Linked DNA regions of Homo sapiens. The gene in region 1 interacts genetically with each later gene. Each region holds a gene or a part of one and is shown on either strand. Other genes may lie near its edges. The genes, in order: RBBP7 and SREBF2.

What was found.
Region 2: changes in RBBP7 (region 1) and SREBF2 together harm fitness less than expected from each alone (positive genetic interaction), as found in Homo sapiens cells (one large-scale study listed by BioGRID).

Annotation. Positions count from the first base shown.
Region 1 is NC_000023.11:16,846,363-16,850,179, reverse strand, and holds part of RBBP7 (histone-binding protein RBBP7), read left to right. Parts: intron 1-878; coding exon 879-936; intron 937-3,817. UniProt on the Homo sapiens protein: Core histone-binding subunit that may target chromatin remodeling factors, histone acetyltransferases and histone deacetylases to their histone substrates in a manner that is regulated by nucleosomal DNA.
Region 2 is NC_000022.11:41,867,335-41,871,151, reverse strand, and holds part of SREBF2 (sterol regulatory element-binding protein 2), read right to left. Parts: intron 2,542-3,817; coding exon 2,360-2,541; intron 264-2,359; coding exon 117-263; intron 1-116.

The DNA.
Region 1 (3,817 bases):
TGGTGAGTTTTAGCAACTATACTGACAGGTGGAAGATAAGTATTGTCTAGCAATCCCACAGGTTTGAGATTGTTTGGTTAGTTTTGTGGGAAGGAAAAAAATGTCTCACTTGGAGGGCTGGGTTTTGTTTTTTAGTAGTTGTTACTACTAAAGTCTTTGGGCTAGGTATAAGGACAGGGCTGATATTGATACATAAAGAGTGATTTCACTGTTGAGCACTGGCAAATTCTACAAATTGAAGTTTTTAAGAGAAAAACCATAAAAACATTTCCTTGGCTTACACATTTCTCAAAGTTTTATTGCCATATCTTTAGACAGATCTATAGTACTGATTTGTAATTATATTTTACTCCTGGGATGCAACAGGCTTTGAGTGAAGTATAGGGATTGCACATCAGTTTATGTGTAGATTTTTTTAACTATACATTTCACCTTTTAATTCTAAGGCAATAAACAGTTAATGAAGGGATTTTGAGTTAATGTTTATTATTGACAATAATTCCTCATTCTGCAACTTCAATTATGAACAACTCTAACTTATTTCCAGAAAGTAAACATCCCGTCCTTACACCAAATATAAACAGTAGCCAGATGTGGTGAGGCTGAGGCGAGAGGATCGCTTTTGAGCCCAGGAGTTCAAGGCTGTAGTGCACAGTGATCGTGCCTGTGAATGAATAGCTACTGACTGCAGCCTGGGAAACATAGCGAGGCCATGTCTCTAAGGAAAAAAAAAACCTAATTGATTGTAGTATAGAAATAAGTTGTTTTTGTGAGTGTGTTTATGTTTTAAGATTACTTTCTGGGCTGATACTGGTTTAGCAGATGTTCGTGCTACAAGAATTTCACTGATGAAAGCGTTATATTCTTTATTCTTACAGTAAAATTGGGGAAGAACAATCAGCAGAAGATGCAGAAGATGGGCCTCCAGAACTCCTGGTACGCATTGGCTTATAGAAGATGAAATGTCATATGCAGATTGGATTGTCATTGATCTCTTTATTTCGAGAATGGGTCAGAACTTCGAATTCTAGCTCTTGCAGATGGTTTCAAAATGGAGGCCCTGAAGGTTATTGCAACTGGGCTTTGACATTTATCAAAAATAGTAAATGGAGCCCAGTAGGTTTTTATGAATGTTTCACTGAGAATGGTTTGAGGTCCTGGAAAATAGTATATAGTAATTTCTCACTGATTTCAACTCTGGTATTTGTGATGGTTTGGGGATGGGGAGTGAGTATAATTGCTATTCAGTTGGCAGTACTTAACATTTCCTAACAGTATAGAAAAAATTTTAAATGCTTTTTAAGTTTCCTGCCCAGAAAAGGAGTGCTTTCTCAATCTTGATGTTAGCAGAGCCCACTATCTCCCTCCCATGCCTGATTGAAGCATCACGCATCTCCTTGGCCCTTTGAAAGCTTATGTGGTGGTATCTGCCCATCCTCATTCTTCCCGTCTGAGTCCTTCAGTGCTCACTTCGTCATTTTTCTATGAAGCATTGCCGGATTTAGCAATGGTTCCCTGTCCTTGCTCTGAATCCAACATTTGTCTCCTCCCATTATTTGGCCGATAGTCACTCATCACTCTGTCATTTACGATTTTAGTTCTAATGCCAGTACTCATTTTTGGCACACTTGTACTTTGTCCATGAGTTTTATTTATTCATTTTTTCTGTGAACCTATGGAGTATATTGAATGTCCACAAGTTTTCAAAGGTAAAGAAGGTCCTTGAGAGCAAGCCCTGCACACAGAAGATGTTCACTAAGCCCACCTTGTAAGAATGCTCCAGACCCTTTTATTTTGATGACGGCTTTACTGAGATATAATTTACATACCACACAGTTCACTTCTTTAAAGTGTACAGTTCAGTGGGGAGGGAGTGTTCTTGGGTTTTGGGGGTTTTTTTTCTTTTTTTGTTCTTGAAGTCAGTGGTTTTTAGTATATTCATAGACTTGTAAAACTATCACCACAAATCAATTCTAGAACATTATTCATCCCCTCCAAAAGAAACTATAGCTATCACCTCCCAATTCTCTTCTTCCTCCAGCCCTTGGCAACTACTGTGCTACTTTCTGGCACTATAAGATTGGGCTATTCTAGATATTTCATATAAATATGACTTTTGTCTTTTGGGACTGATTCTTTCACATAGTACAATGTTTTCAAGGTCTCCAGCTATTTTTTTTAGGGAGAAAGGAAAGCGTATTACTTTGTATATTATGCCTCTGCAACAATTCCAAGGTCCTTGAGAAAATACACTAGGATTTTGCTTTTTACAAGAGAGCTTGAAATCAAGGGACATTTGAGAGTAGTAAACTGGGCCTGGGCATGGTGGCTCCTGCCTGGAATCCCAGCACTTTGGGAGGCCAAGGCAGGTGGATCACGTGAGCCCACAAGTTCAAGACCAGGCTGGGAAACATGGCAAAACCCTGTCCTGTCTCTACCAAAAAAAAAAAAAAATACATAAATTAGCCAGGTGTGGTGGCGCGTGCCTGTAGTCCCAGCTACTTGGGAGACTGAGGTAGGAGAATCACCTGAGCCCGGGAAGTTGAGGCTGCAGTGAGCCATGATCACACCACTGCACTCCAGCCTGGGCAATGGGAGTGAGACCCTGTCCCAAAAACAAAGTAGTAAACTATTCCACCAGTATGCTTTGATAACTCCTGTATGTTTTCTAAGCCCCAGTGATCTTAAAATATATTCACCTGTGTACCCCTTAAGAGTACTCTCTCTGTCGCCCAGGCTGGAGTGCAGTGGTGCAATCTCAGCTCACTGCAACCTCTGCCTCCCGGGTTCAAGTGATTCTCCTGCCTCAGCCTCCCGAGTAGCTGGGACTACAGGTGCGCAACACCATGTCCAGCTAATTTTTGTATTTTTAGTAGAGACAGGGTTTCACCATGTTGGCCAGGATGGTCTTGATCTCTTGACCTCGTGATCCGCCCGCCTCAGCCTCCCAAAGTGGTGGGATTACAGGCGTGAGCCACCACACCCGGCCAGTATATTCACTTGTGTACCCCTTAAGAGTACTTTAAAAAGCTATTTACCTCTTTTTTTTTTAAGTCAAGGTCTGGTTCTGTCACCCAGGCTGGAGTGCAGTGGCGCAGTCTTAGTTCACTGCAACCTCCACCTCCCAGGTTCAAGCTGTCTTCCCATCTCAGCCTCCTGAGTAGCTGGGACTATGGGCACACCCCACCACGCCCGGCTAATTTTCGTATTTTTTGTAGAGACGGGGTTTTGTCATGTTGCCCAGGCTGGTCTTGAACTCCTGAGCTCGAGCCATCCGCCTGCTTTGGCCTCCCAAAGTGCTGGGATTACAGGCGTGAGTTTTACCCAGCCCCACCTCATATTTTTAACCCGATAAGATTATTCGGTAAAATAGATACATTGCATAATACCTAGTTGGCAGGCAGAGACCTCATTGTCAAACTAGAGTCAAATCAGACTTTGTCAGAAAGTGTGATGTCCCAGTTCCAAACAGTGTATTTAGTACTGTCCTTGTGAAGAAGTGTTTCGTTTAAATCTTAATTCTAAGATAAAAAAATAAGGCATAGTGCATTCCGACGAGGTTGTCTCTTGCGGGGAACAACTGCTCTCTTCAGAATTGTTTAGCAAAGCTCTCACCTTAGGCATAGCTTATGAGGGACTATCTGGAGCTATGCTTTTGGAGCCAGGGATTTTCTTTCACCCTGGTGCTGTCTGTGTACGTTGGAAAGATGGGCAAGAAGTATGCCTCTCTCAGTAAAGTGGAGAGGGGAAGAACCAGAAGACTCCTCAGGCCCCTTGTATAATAGAAGAGTATGTTACATGGCATATAACGGATTGA
Region 2 (3,817 bases), on another chromosome or scaffold:
TTGTGCTATAGACCCTCCCATACCTACTCAGCATATAGAGATTTAACATCTCTGAAGACTAACACCTCCAGGAATAAAGGGGGAGGGAGGAGGGTGGGGGAGAAGGCAGCTCTTACTGGTACTTGAAGGGCAGCCGTCTGGATAGGGGTGGTGAGGGCGGTGAGGGCCGGGTTCTGGACCGCAGCCATAACAGGGCTGCCATCTGTCTTCAGTGTGGTCAAAACAAGGGAATCTGTCTTGATGATCTGAGGCTGGACCAGGACCTGGATGAAGAAGGAAGAAAAGTAAAAGGATGATAGCATTATCCTTCTGTTATGCATTCCTTTCTTACTGCATAGACCTTCCAAGAAAGAATGAGAAATGATATAATTTTTATGAAATTGAGAATAAAAAAATGAACAGGAAATTTCATAGAGGCCATTTCAAAAGCCGGCTATTTTGTACAGCCTGAATACCGGGTTCAGGTGGAGAAAGAGGGGCTAGCTAATGAGGGTCCTGGCTTTTTTTTTTTTTTTTTTTTTTTGCTGAGACAGGGTTGCTCTCTGTTGCCCAGGCTGGAGTGCAGTGGTGCAATCTCAGCTCACTGCAGCCTTGACCTCCCGGGCTCAAGTGATCCTGCTGCCTCAGCCTCCTGAGTAGCTGGGACTACAGGTGTGTGCCACCATGCCTGGCTAATTGTTTGTATTTTTTTGTAGAGACAGGGTTTCACCATGTTGCCCAGGCTGGTCCTGAACTTTTGGGTTCAAGAAATCCACCTGCCTCAGCCTCCCAAAGTGCTGAGATTACAGGCGTGAGCCATGGTGCTCAGCCAGGTCATGGGTTTTTAGGTTGAAAGACTTTCAAGAGGGTGGTGCCAGTGGCCCAGCAGGAGCAGAGCAGAGATGGGTAGGGTGGATGGCAGAGAGGAGAGAAAAGACTCAGGAAAGCCAGACACATGGCTGAGAAGCAAAAATAATAAACCTGATTTTTTTAAGATAAATTGTTAGTAAGAAAATATAGGCCAGATGTGGTGGCTCATGCTTGTAATCCCAGCACTTTGGGAGACCAAGGCAGGTGGATCATGAGGTCAGGAGTTTGAGACCAGCCTAACCAACATGGTGAAACCCTGTCTCTACTAAAAATACAAAAATTAGCTGGGCGTGATGGCGCGTGCCTGGAATCCCAGCTACTCGGGAGGCCGAGGCAGGAGAATTGCTTGAACCCAGGAGGCTGAGGTTGCACAGTGAGCCGAGATCGTGCCACTGCACTCCAGCCTGGGCGACAGAGCAAGACTCTCAAAAAAAAAAAAAGAAAAAAGAGGATATAGTCCACGATGATATATAACATAAAGACGTTTTTTGTGATTATAAAAATAATACACGTCCCCCAGCTGGGCACAGTGGCTCCCACCTGTAGTCTCAGCACTTTGGGAGGCCGAGATCGATGCACTGTTTGAGGCCAGGAGTTCAAAACCAGCCTGGCCAACCTGGAGAAACCCCATCTCTACTAAAAATACAAAAAACTAGCCAGGTGCAGTGGCAGGTGCTTGTAATCCCAGCTACTTGGGAGGCTGAGGCAGGAGAATCGCTTGAACCTGGTAGGCGGGGGTTGCAGGGAGCCAAGATCACGCCACTGCACTCCAACCTGGGCAACAAGAGCAAAACTGTCTCCAAAAAAAAAAAATTAAAAAAAAGATTAATAATACATGCCCCCCCTCCCCCCAACCCAATATATGTTCAGGATCCACAGCAGAAAATATGGAGAACAGAAAACTATGAAAGCCAAGGGCAGTGGCTCACGTCTGTAATCCCAGCACTTTGGGAGGCCGAGGCGGGTGGATCACAAGGTCAGAAGTTCAAGCCAGCCTGGCCAACATCCCGTCTCTACTAAAAATATAAAAATTAGCCGGGTGTGGTGGCACATGCCTGTAGTCCCAGCTACTCGGGAGGCTGAAGCAGCAGAACTGCTTGAACCCGGGAGGCGGAGGTTATAGTGAGCTGAGACCACACCACTCCACTCCAGCTTGGGCAACAGAATGAGACTCCGTCTCAAAACAACAACAACAACAAAAAAACACAACACAAAACTATGAAAAAGAAAATTATCTGGGAAATACCAATTTAGCACATTTCTTTCCAGTTTTATGCCCATTACATGTGTACGTAAGTGACTGCACCAGCCTTTCCTGAGTGCCAGTGTCTATCTACAGATATGGACTCAGCCAGGTCACTATACGCTGCTCACAGGTGCATCCTGGCGCCCTACAAGCTGCTTTGTGTACACTCTGGTTGGTCCTTCTTAGTATGTAGACCACATCTTCAACCAAGGACCAGTTAACAGCCCCAACCAGTGCCTCCCTGAATCCTTTCCAGCCACTTACCGGGACCTGCTGCACCTGTGGCGCAGCAACTGTCTGCACCGTAGCCGGGGCAAGGGTCTGCAGCGTGCCATTGGCCGTTTGTGTCAGCACCCGCTGGGCCTGTACTGTCTGCACCTGCTGCTGAATGGTGACCGGCTGTACCTGGGAGGATGTCACCAGGCTTTGGACTTGAGGCTGAAGGACTTGGGAGAAGAGGAGAAAGAAGGCACAGAGATGAGGAATGCATTCTGTCACTGCAGCTGCAGCAGAAACCTGAGGATGGAGTATCTCATAATGATTCCAACTCCCCACCTACTGCTGAAGATGATGTGCACAGCCATTTACAAGGTGGCTTAGACAACAAGAACATCCCATAAGGGCTGCATCAATTTCTGAGGGAACGAGTACAAATTGTTTTATTACTCTGGGTGCCAGGGTGGGGGAAAGGGAAGCTAATCAGCAAATGACTGCACCCAGCAAGGGAGTTAACAGATGTTGAGAATCAACAACTCCCTGGGGCTTCATTTTCTTCCATCCTTTCTGGACGGCAAGTGCACTTTGGGAGGACTGTCTCAGCTTTTTGCCTTTACATTCCCCCACCTGTCCCAATTCTTGAACTCCATTGAAGAACTATAAGATTCTTTGAAATTCAAAGCAATACTAATCTTACCCTGGGCTCCCCACAGAGTCAGAGGGAAATATGATGAAAAGGCACTGGGATGCAGCACATCACAGAAAGAACAGGCCCCTTTCAGTCATCCATTCCCTCAACACATACTAAGGGCCCAGCATGAGGCTTGCTACTTGAAGCTGCTGCACCTATATTAAAAGTCATATTCATCACCATAGTGGATGCTCAGATGTTTGCTGAATGAATAGTTCTCAACTGTGGCAGCTGAGATCTGGCTGCCGCCTAGCCAATTTCAAGCCTTATTCAAGTCTCCACCACTAGTTATCAGAATGGCCCTGTGTCTACTATGCTTGCTGGATTTTTTTTTTTCTTTTTAAGATGGGAGTCTCGCTCTGTTGCCTAGGCTGGAGTGCAGTGGCACGATCTCTGCTCACTGCAAGCTCTGCCTCCCGGGTTCACGCCATTCTCCTGCCTCAGCCTCCCGAGTAGCTGGGACTACAGGCGCCCGCCACCATGCCCGGCTAATTTTTTCTATTTTTTAGTAGAGATGGGGTTTCACTGAGTTAGCCAGGATGGTCTCAATCTCCTGACCTCGTGATCCGCCCGCCTTGGCCTCCCAAAGTGCTGGGATTACAGGCGTGAGCCACCGCGCCCGGCCGCTTGCTGGATTTTTTAACCAAGTATTTTTGAATTAGGCGCAATAGATATTAAGGTATTTGAAGCTGCAGAATGTGACATGCTCCTGTACCAGTTCTTATTGCCAGTTACCAGAACCTCATTCAGACAGGACCATATTGATATACCTGCCATTCCTGAAGACGACAGAAATATTTACAGTGTCTGCAAAC